Regions from separate parts of the Homo sapiens genome. Here region 2 is linked to region 1. A link means that fine-mapping ties the variant in region 1 to the expression of a gene that starts in the linked region. Tissue or cell type: whole blood. Region 1 holds a variant in brackets; the other region holds the start of a gene. All regions are shown on one strand. Distances are from middle to middle.

Region 1 (5,830 bases):
AACTAAAACACTATTTTTAAAAATTAAGTTAAAAACCGGGGGGGGGGGGAGTACTCATAATCCCTTAATTCAACCCAAAGTTAATAAAAAGTGCTGCCAGAAATCTTTTTAGGTCCGTGACCATGGGCTCTCTTCAGCTATTGTTCAGTGACAAGAGCAATATCATCACCAACTAAACTAGAGAAGGTAAAGAAAGGGAGTGACTATAAAAACAGCTATCTAAAGAGAAACAAAAAAGCAAACCAGAAGGAGTCCTAGGAAAAAGAAAAAAAAAAAAAGAAGAGAGAAAGGAGGAACAACAACAACAAAAAACCAAAGTGAGAAACATTTTTTTAAATTGTATTTCCAATCATCTACTAAACAAAACATACTACAGAAAAATACTTCCAAGCTTACACTGTAAGGGGTTGCTTCCACTTGGGACTGTTTGTGTTGTTGCATTTTTCTGTCTTCTTTGACTGTCCATCTACTGTGACCTCTACGTAAGGACTTGGTCCAAACCAATTCTTCTTATTTTCCTTAAGTTTTGCTGAGATGACTATGTAAAAGAAATGAAAAACATTTCAATAGTTGAGATGTTAATTCACTCATGAAATCAATTTAACTTCATAATTAGGCAGATTTACTAAATTTACTCAGAGAAGCAGTTTTGCTCTAAAATACTTACCAATTTTATTCACTCATAACCTTTGTACTTCCTCCCATCCTAGTAAATAAATATAGAGGTTCCCCGTACCATCAACCCAAATTCCCATCAGTAGAATTCCATGGTATCAAAAGTCCAGAACTCAGATCAATTAAAAAGTACACATATGGGCCAGGTGCAGCGGGTTACACCTCTAATCCCAGAACTTTGGGAGGCTGAGGCAAGAGGATTGCCTAAGCTCAGTAGTCGAAGACCAATCTGGAAAACATAGCGAGACCTCATCTCGCCTAAAAATCAAAAAAATTAGCTGGGCACAGTGGCGTGTGCCAGTCCCAGCTACCTGGGAGGCTGAGGTAGGAGAATCGCTTGAGTCCAGGAGGTCAAGGCTTCAGTGAGCTATGGTTGTGCAACAGCTTGGGCAACAGGAGGAAAAATTTAAAAAGTACACATATGGCTGGGCAGGGTGGCTTGCACCCGTAATCTCAGCTACTCAGGTGGCTGAGGCAGGAGGACTGCTTGAGCCTAGGTGTTTAAGACCTGCCTGGGCAGCACAGCGAGACCATATCTCAAAACAAAATGTATGCATTGACAAACATGGTCAACAAACATCTGAATGCCTACCATGTGTCAGATACTGCTCTAAACTCTGTCCCTAAAGCAATTAACAGTAAAGAAAAGGATCTGGCTTTCAAGGAGATTATATTCTAATTAAAGTATTTATGATGAAAAACAGGCTGATGTGACAGAAAATGACTTGGTAGTAAGGAAGGCCTTTGAGAAGACTTTTAAGCAACCATCCAAATGACAAGGAGCCAGCCATGGGAAGACTGGAGGTGGGAATAAGACAGCATTCCAGAGAGAGGCAAATGAGTATGGCATATCTGAGGGAAAGTATAGCAAGCACAGGAAGGAATGGTAAATGAAGGGAGATAAGCTTTGTATGGGAGCTTTATAAACCAAGATAAAGAATCTGCAGCTGGGCGCAGCGGCTCACATCTGTAATCCCAGCACTTTGGGAGACTGAGGCGGGTGGATCACCTGAGGTCATGAGTTTAAGACCAGCCTGGCCAACATGGCGAAACCTCGTCTCTACTAAAAAATTTCAAAACTTAGCCAGGTGTGGTGGCAGGCGCCTGTAATCCCAGCTACTCAGGAGGCTGAGGCAGGAGAATTGCTTGAACCCGGGAGGTGGAGGTTGCAGTGAGCCGAGATTATGCCACTGCACTCCAGCCTGGGCGACAGAGTGAGCCTACGTATCAAAAATAATAATAATAATGATAATTTAGATTTTATTCTGTGTGTTGGAAAGCCAATGGAAGAATAAGAACTACAAACTAAGATTTTTTTTTTAACATCTCATATTATCTAAGGAAGAGCTTCCTATGTTGTGCATCTTGAGATACAAACTCCTTAGCCTTCACCTTTTAGTTACCTTTGCCATAAAATAGCTTTGTCCAGGCCCCTTACAGGGTATAACAAGTAGAAATCTAGCAAAGCACCCCATGATTTCCATAGGTGGCAAGTCATTGCTCCCTCATAGATGAGGTAACTACAACCAAGGAAGTACCCACCACCCAGGTTATCTACTCCACCACCCAGGTTATCTACTGTAGCAGCAAAGTTCAGAGAATGCTAATGCTCATCAAAGTTAAGGAACCCTTGGAGTTGTCAGAGGAGTTTATATAGTAACTACTTAAGAAGCTTAATATAGCCGGGTGCGGTGGCTCACGCCTGTAATCCCAGCACTTTGGGAGACTGAGACGGGCGGATCACGAGGTCAGGAGATCGAGACCATCCTGGCTAACATGGTGAAACCCTGTCTCTACTAAAAATACAAAAAATTAGCCGGGCGTGGTGGCGAGCGCCTGTAGTCCCAGCTACTCGGGAGGCTGAGGCAGGAGAATGGTGTGAACCTGGGAGGCGGAGATTGCAGTGAGCCGCGATTGCGCCACTGCACTCCAGCCTGGGTGACAGAGCAAGACTCCATCTCGAAAAAAAAAAAAAAAAGAAG[C/A]AGCAGCTTAATATATAGTCCAAAGTCTGGATATCTAAGCAGGCATAGTCCCAGGTGGTGGCCCTGAAACTCTGACTTTACATATATCAAATACTTCCATCCTTTTAGGCTTATGTGCCTTTTTGCTGGCATTCAAGCTAGCCACAGAATGACTGACTGAAGAAAAAGAAGAGTTGCAAGAGAAGGCTAGACAAATAGACAAGATCAAGCATGGTGGTTCACACTTGTAATCCCAGCACTTTGGGAGGCTGAGGCAGGAAGATCACTTGAGGCCCAGGAGTTTGAACAAAGCCTGGTCAACATAGTGAGACCCCCGTCTCTACAAAAGATAATTTTAAAAATTAGCCAGGCATGATGGCGTGCACCTGTAGTCCCAGCTGCTGGGGGGAGGCTGAGGCAGGAGGATCGCTTAAGCCTGGGAGGTCAAGGCTGCAGTGAGCTGTGATTGCACCACTGCAATCCAGCCTGGGCAACAGAGCAAAACTGTCTTTTAAAAAAAAAAAAAAATTGTTTCAGATGCCAGATGCTGAGACATCTAAGTGGAAACATGAAATAGAAAGTCTTTTTCAGAATAAAAAATATTCAAGTGGGGACCAGAGCTATCTCTGATTAAAATGTAATAGGCCGGGCACGTAATACCAGCACTTTGGGAGACCCAGGCGGGAGGATCACTTGAGCCCAGGAGTTTAAGACCAGCCTGGACAACACAGTGAGACCTCATCTCTATTAAAAAATAAAAAATAAAAAAAAAGTACTATTAAATCAAAGCTCTAGTGCTTAATATAGAGCCAAATTTAATCACAGGATTACACAGAAAAACATAAAATTTCTACTTTTAATACATTTCTGGTCTAAGAAAAGGTGAAATAGCCCAAACAATTATACATACACTCATTATATTTCAGGGCCTCTTGTGGCACTCTGAAACTGATTAAACCTAGAACAAAGAGCAACGCAAGGCTGACAGGAAGGAAATGATCTGCCCCTGTTGGGGCTTTCTAGGATTCAAACTTTTTTTTTTTTTTGAGATAGGAGTTTCGCTCTTGTTGCCCAGGCTAGAGTGCAATGGCACAATCTTAGCTCATTGCAACCTCCGCCTGCCGGGTTCAAGCGATTCTCCTGCCTCAGCCTCCCAAGCAGCTGGGGTTATAGGCACGCGCCGCCACACCCAGCTAATGTTTGTATTTTTAGTAGAAACGGGGTTTCACCATGTTGGTCAGGCTGGTGTCAAACTCCTGACCTCAGGTGATCCACTTGCCTCGGCCCCTCAAAGTGTTGGAATTACAGGCGTGAGCCACTGTGCCCAGCTGGATTCAAATTTGTGAAAGCAATTTTGCTACATAATCCTACCAAACCCCACTGAAACCTTTTTTTTTTTTTTTTTTTTTTTGAGACAGGGTCTGGTTCTGTCACCCAGGCTGGAGAATAGTGGCACAATCTCAGGTCACTGCAACCACCTCTACCTCCTGGGCTCAAGCCATCCTCCCATCTCAGCCTCCCAAGTGGCTGGGACTACAGGTGCGTGCCACCACATCCAGGAAATTTTTGTATTTTTTTTCTGGTAGAGACAAGCTTTTGACATGTTGCCCAAGTTGGTCTTGTACTCCTGGGCTCAAGAGATCCACTTACCTAGGCCTACCAAAGTGGTGGAATTACAGGCATGAGCCACCAGGCCTGGCCTAACAAACTTTACATGGGGGTGGAGGAGCACCAATTTTAGTATTTACCATGTGCCTGCACGTAAATGTCATTTCAATATCAATACCTATTCTGCGAAACAGGTATTACTGTCCTAATTTTTACACATAAAAAGAGAAGCGGCCGAACGTGGTGGCTCACACCTGTAATCCCAGCACTTTGGAAGTCTCAGTCAAAAGGATCAACGGGGGTCAGGAGCCAGCTTGACAAACATGGTGAAACCCTGTCTCTACTAAAAATACAAAAATTAGCCAGACATGGTGGCAGGCGCCTGTAATCCCAGCTACTCAGGAGGCTGAGGCAGGAGAATCACTGCAACCCGGGAGGCAGAGGTTGTAGTGAGCTGAGATCATGCCATTGCACTCCAGCCTGGGTGACAAGGGTGAAACTCCATCTCAAAAAAAAAAAAAAAAAAAAAGACAGAAGCTCTGTGAAATTTAAAAATTTGCCCAAGGGTCACACTGCAAAACCTGGACAGGAGAAATTATTTCAGTATTCAAATCTCAAAGTCTAGATTGAACAAAACCTTGTGTTATAGTCATAATATTACAAATATAAAATAAATCAATGTACTACTTTCTGAAAACTAAAGTCCCACAGTAAATTAAACAAAAAAATAAAAAACTATACATTATAAACCGGAAGAAAAAGGACCAGAAAAATGTCAGTCTCATCTGACACCTGGGCTACTATGAGAGGCCTCTAAACAACTGTTTTTACTCTCACTTCTCCAATCCAACCCCTCACAGCCACCAGAATTATTTTCCTAGAATAGATGTGATCATGTCATTAATGTCATTACTTAAATGATTCTTTATTGCCTGAAAAATGAAGTTTAAACTCTTATGGGGCATTTTACCTTGCTTAGTATGCAGCTATAACTTACCCTTCCAGCCTCCTACTAAAACAAATCTTACCAAAGTTCTATATTCTAGCCACCCTTAGTTATTTGCTGTTCCTCACATGGGCCATGTACTTTCATTCCTCTAAACATGCTGCTCCCTCTACTGAGAATGATCCTTTTTTCTTTTATACCCATTAAAATTATATTTCCTGAGAGATAAACATCCCCCTTCTCTTTGATTAAAGGCTTCTTTAATCCTAAGAAGTTAAATTATTTCCACCTCCATGCTTCCAGAGTATTTCCATATTTACGTATGGCTCCGTCAGCTTTTCATTTTGTCTTACTAGTTTTTACTCATTTAACTCACCCCGTGAGCCTCTTGATTGCACAGATATAGCCAATCTTTACAATTTCTGGAGCACTCTGGGATTTAATCTGAGAGGTATTTAATATACATGTTGAACCAAATTGTTATTAGTCATGGTAGAAAACAAAAGTTTCCCTGCTTTCTAGTCTCTGTCTCTCTGCTTTATTATAATCACTTGCTGGCTATCTCACTCTCCCATGCATGTGCTCTCTCTCTCTCACACATACCCACATACTAATGCAAATAGTTTTCATGGCTTAAACT
Region 2 (5,830 bases), 43 kb after region 1:
AGGCCAAGGTGGGAGGACCACTTGAACACAGGAGTTAAGACCAGACTGGGCAACGTAAAGAGAACCTTTCTCTACAAAAAAATTTTAAAAATTAGCCAGGCATGCTAATGCATGCCTGTTGTCCCAGCTACTCAGGGAGGCTGGGGTGGGAAGATCACTTGAGCTCTGGAGGTCCTGTCACTGCACTCCATCCTGCGTGACTGGGTGAGACCCAGTCTCAACAACAAAAAATCACTTTTCATATACTTGCTTCCTTTAACCTTTCTGACCTTGCGTTTCAAAATGCTCTCCTTCCCCATTCCACTCCACACTCCCTGAACCCTTTTTGTTCCATAATCCTCTGAATTTACACACAGCATTAAGGCATTCACTCAGCCTACCCTGTCCTTCTCTTTCCCCGCCCTTTTCACACTCCTACTCTTCATGTAAGACCCAATGTGGGTTCAGGGGCAAATCTTGCCTCTTCTAACCAATCCTCCACCCAGCCACACACACAGAATTGGCCACTTCCTCTTTCGTCTCAAAGCTTTTTGACCTTTCCTTGGTAAGTCTACAGTACCATTTGCCCTCAGTGGTTCCCAAGACCATCAGAATTACCTAAGGCATGTGTTAAAAATAAATTGGTTGAAGCCAACCCAGACCTACTAAATCCATCTCAGAAGGTAAGACCCTGGAATTTCTAAGCTCTCCTAATTATTCTAATGGTCAAATTTGGGGACTACTGGTTTGTCTGCCTCTCCCAATAAGTGAAAAGATGTATTTTTTAGGGCCAGGAGTGGCGGCTCATGCCTGTAAACCCAGCACTTTGGGAGGCCAAGGCAGGTGGATCACGAGGTCAGGAGTTCGAGAGCAGCCTAGCCAATATGGTGAAAACCCATCTCTACTAAAAAATACAAAAAAATTACCGGGAGTGGTGGCACGCGCCTGTAGTCCCAGCTACTACGGAGGCTGAGGCAGAAGAATTGCTGGAACCCGGGAGGCGGAGGTTACAGTAAGCCGAGATCACACCACTGTACTCCAGCCTGGGTGACAAAGTTAGATTCCGTCTCAAACAAACGAAAAAGATGTATTTTTTTCTAAAGAATGTAGAAATGTTTGATTCTAGAATACACTGAAGAAGTAGTCTGTACTCATTTTTTTAATTTCATATGATATCCTTGGTGACTTGACCTGTATGCTGAATGTAATGGAATTCCTTTTGGACTCACAAAACTTAAATTCACAGTTCAAAGAAGCAGTAGAATTTCCACCTTCATTTCTAAATTTTTTTTTTTATTTTTTGAGACAGGGTCTCACTCTGTCACCCAGGCTGGAATGCAGTGGCAACGGTAACAGCTCACCGCAGCCTCGACCCCCCGGAATCAGGTGATTCCCCCACCTCAGCCTCCTGAGTATCTGGGACCACAGGCGCCTGCCACCACACCCGGCAAATCTTTGTATTTTTTGTAGAGACGGGGTTTCACGATGTTGCCCAGGCTGATCTCCAATTCCTGGGCTCACGTAATCCGCCCACCTCGGCCTCCCAAATTGCTGGGATTACAGGCGTGAGCCACCACACCCATCCCATTGCTTTTTTTTTTTTTTTTTTTTTGAGGCGGAGTCTCGCTCTGTCGCCCAGGCTGGAGTGCAGCAGCGAGATCTCGGCTCACTGCAGCCTCCACCTCCCGGGTTCAAGCCATTCTCCTGCCTCAGCCTCCCTAGTAGCTGGGACTACAGGCGCGCGCCACCACGCCCAGGATTTTTTTTTTTTTTTTTTTGTATTTTTAGTAGAGACGGGGTTTCACCATGTTGGTCAGGATGGTCTCGAACTCCTGACCTCATGATCTGCCCGCCTCGGCCTCCCAAAGTGCTAGGATTACAGGCGTGAGCCACACACAGCACCCGGCCCATTTCTTAATTTTAAAAATAAATCGTAGCTTAAATAAACCTGTAAATACACATAGCAAGCTCTCAGCAGATCTGCCATGAGAACTTCACCTCAACTGATAAACCATTCCTTAGCCGATTTTGAGAATGGAAATACACTGCCTTTACATACTTCCTGAAGATCGAATTCTATCAGGAAAAGATGCAGGAGAACCCACCTAAGTGGGTGGCTGGCTCCAGGGTCTTACTAATTTTCAAGGCAAAAATCCCACAATTCCCCATCCCCCACTCCAAACCAAGTATACTGTAGCTGTGGAAGAATGGCAGAAAATGTAATAAGATTAGGATACGAATACAACCAAGAAAACAAGGTTGCGTTGTTATTGGGGATAATGAATTCCTGGCCCTTTACAAGTTCACCTGGTTACATGTCCAACTAACTTTAGGCCCAGCGTCTACTTCGGGCGCACAAATTCTGCGATTCTCTTTTCTGTCGCGGACGGGAACTGTCTTGGAAAACTTGAGTTCTCCACTTAAAAGTCATGTCATCATGCTTCGACCCTTAGAATACGTTCAACGGCTACTTTTTTCTTTTCTCTGCTAAAGAAAAGGGCACTCTCCGGAGGAAGGGCAGTGACAGCTCCACGTCTGCAAAAGTCGGCGCCGCCACGACGGTGGCGGACGTCGGGGAGGGCGCCGGAGCCGGGACCACCACGCCGGGGGGACAATGGAAGGAGGAGGCGAGTGGGAGAGAGAAGGGGAGGCAGCCGCTGTGCTGGGCCCTTCTAGCGACTGGGGGCTCGGAAAAGTCTCGAGAAGGCCAGCTGGGTGGCGGGGGACCCGGCCGCCGCCCCTCACAGGGCCACGTCGCCCGCGCCGGCCCCGCCGCCGGGCCCCGCGCGTAGGCCGAACCGCTGGAGAGTGGCCCCAGGCGGGGCTGAGGGGCGAGGGGCCGGACGGTACCCACGCCCGTCGTGGCCCAGCCCTTTCACAACTTGGAGCCCGCGAGGCGAAGGCCTCCGGAAGCCTGTGCCAGACACTGATCCCTCCGAACGTCCAGACAGCCCACCCCCACCGCCCGGCCCGGGCCAGTAGCCCGAGCTCCCCGCGCCCCCGACAGACACCGGCTCTGGAAGAAGGAGCAGCCGCGGCTCTGGGGTCCCGAACCGCGCGTCCCACTCCTCTACCCTTGTTCTCCCCGAACATTCTCATCCGGACTCCCTCCCTCTCCCGAGAACTGCCCCGAGTTCGCCCACGGGGGTTTACCGGGACTCGGGGCGGCGGCGACTCCTCAGTCCCTAGACTAAGATGGCAGCCGGTCCCGAGCCCCGACCACAGCTACTAGAGCGAGTTAGCAGCTAAAGCGCAGGCGCCTGAGCGCGGAAGTGGTCTAGACTACAAGCCCCAGCAGGCCTTGCGCGCCAGCCGTCCGGCCCGCCCCTGGCTTGAAGAGCTGGCTGCGGTGGTAAATCAGTTAAATCCCAGTTTTCCTCAGCTCCAGGTGAGATGGGCGCGAGCGGCTCCCAGCACCTCCAGGCTTTTTTTTTTTTTTAACACCCCGCCCACCAGAGCCTATAAGGACTGTGATTCTCAAACTATGGTGTGCATCAGAATCACCTAGAGAGCTTATTAAAACTTACACTGCTGACCCCCACCCCCAGAGTTTCTGATCAGAAGATCTGGCATAGGAGGATAGGGTCTGATAATTTGCATGTCCAACAAGCTGTCTAGTGATACTGCTAGTGAGTGAAATCATAATTTGAGAACCAATGGGCTATATAGCTTAGTTTATAACTTAGTTGTTCTTTTTTCTTTTTCTTTTCCTTTTCTTTTTTTTTCTTCTTTTTGAGATAAGGTCTCACCCTTCACCCAGGCTGGAGTGCAGTGGTGCAGTCATAGCTCACTACAGCCTCACACTCCTGGGCTCAAGCGAGCCTCCCACCTGGGCTTCCTGAGTAGCTGGGACAGCAGTTGAGCACCACCACACCCGACTAATTTTGTTCTATTCTTTGTAGAGATGGGGATGGGGTGGAGTGCGGATGGGATGGGGCGGGAATAGGGCCACGGTGTCGCCATGTTGCCCAGGCTGGTCTCCAGCTCCTGGGCTCAAGCGATACTCCCTCCTCGGGCCTCCCAATCGCTGAGATTACAGATGTGAGCCACTGCACCTGGCCTGGCTTAGCCTTTAACAATGTACATTAAAGGGCGTGGTTAAAAAGAAAATAAAAGAAAAAAAATGTACACTTGAGAGTTACACTGACCGGATTCAAATCCTCCCTTTTCTACCTTTTAACTGGGTGCCCTTAGGGATGATGACAACAGCTTAGTGGAGCCAACGTGGCCTGTCCGGTATTCTAAGAGCTGATACCAAGCTCCCTTTATTCTCACAACAAACCTATTACAGAAATACCATTATTATCCCCATTTTACAAATATATAAACTAAGTCACATACTTGATAAGAACCCAGGCAGTCTGGCGTGAAAGTCCGTTGTCTTAACCTTCTTCATGGATTGCTTGTGAGAAATAATAGGCTATGCAGGCAGAGACTCAGAGGTATGACTAAGTGCTCAATACTTAGTGACCTTTGCTATTACTGTTTAGCCTGTTTCCTCCTAATGAAAATAGTATTTTGCCATCTGGAAAGTCACATTTTTCAAAGTGACTTTTTTTTTTTTTTTTTTTTTGAGACAGAGTCTTGCTCTGTCACCCAACCTGGAGTGCAGCGGTGCAATCATAGCTCACTGCAGCCAACCTCCTGGGCTCAAGTGATCCTCTCACCTCAGCTTCCTGAGTAGCTGGGACTCCAGGCTCAAGCCACCACACTATCCTAATTGTTTTTATTTTTGTAGAGACGTGGACTCCCTGTGTTGCCCAGGCTGTTCTCAGACTCCTAGGCTTGGCTAGGGTCAGTGGCTTACACCTGTAATCCCAGGAGTTAGGGAGGCCAAGGCAGGCAAATCACTTGAGGTCAGGAGTTTGAGACCAGTCTGGCCAACATGGTGAAACCCCGTCTCTTTTTTTTTTTTTTTTTTTTTTTGAGACAGAGTATTGCTCTGTCGCCCAGGCTGGAGTGCAGTGGCGCAATCTTGGCTCACTGCAACCTCCGCTCGCCTCCTGGGTTCAAGTGATTCTCCTGTCTCAGCCTCCTAAGTAGCTGGGACTACAAGCGCATGCCATCACGCCTGGCTAATTTTTGTATTTTTAGTAGAGTTGGGTGAGCCACCACGCCTAGCCTTGTGAAACCCCTTCCCTACTAAAAACACAAAAATTAGCCAGGTGTGGTGGCGGGTGCCTGTAATCCCAGCTACTTGGGAGGCTGAAGCACGATAATTGATTGAACCCAGGAGGGGGAGGTTGCAGTGACCCAAGATCACGCCATTGCACTCCAGCCTGGGCGACTCAGCGAGACTCTGTCTCAAAAAACAAACAACAAAAGAAACATAAAGGCTGGGCGCAGTAGCTCACTCCTATAATCCCAGCACTTCGGGAGGCTGAGGCGGGTGGATCACCTGAGGTCAGGAGTTTGAGACCAGCCTGGCCAACATGGTGAAATCTTGTCTCTACTAAAAATGCAAAAATTTGTTGGGCATGGTTTGGGAGGCCGAGGCGGATGGATCAACTGAGGTCAGGAGTTCAAGACCAGCCTGGCTAACATGGTGAAACCCCATCTCTACTAAAAATGCAAAAATTAGACCGGGCACGGTGGCTCACGCCTATAATCCCAGCACTTTGGGAGGCCAAGGCGGGCGGATCACGAGATCAGGAGTTCAAGACCAGCCTGGCTATCATGGTGAAACCCTATCTCTACTAAAAATACAAAAATTAGCCGGGCGTGGTGGCGGGTGCCTGTAATCCCAGCTAGTCAGGAGGCTGAGGCAGAGAATTGCTTGGACCTGGGAGGCGGAGGTTGCAGTGAGCCAAGATCGTGCTACTGCACTCCATCCTGGGCCACAGAGCGAGAA

What was found. PIP is the estimated chance that this variant, and not a neighbour inherited with it, causes the effect.
Region 2: ITCH starts here. The variant in region 1 is fine-mapped to the expression of ITCH in whole blood (TOPMed, PIP above 0.99).

What each region holds. Positions count from the first base shown.
Region 1 is chr20:34,403,359-34,409,188 of GRCh38, reverse strand. ITCH (itchy E3 ubiquitin protein ligase) reads right to left here. Exons shown (of 25, transcript NM_031483.7): 4 at 397-538. Among named protein-coding and RNA genes, the nearest start is that of ITCH, 43 kb to the right of the region's middle. The variant C/A (reference allele first, on the strand shown) is at 2,658.
Region 2 is chr20:34,360,652-34,366,481 of GRCh38, reverse strand. ITCH (itchy E3 ubiquitin protein ligase) reads right to left here and starts at 3,209. Exons shown (of 25, transcript NM_031483.7): 1 at 3,133-3,209. RefSeq lists a silencer at 2,675-2,904.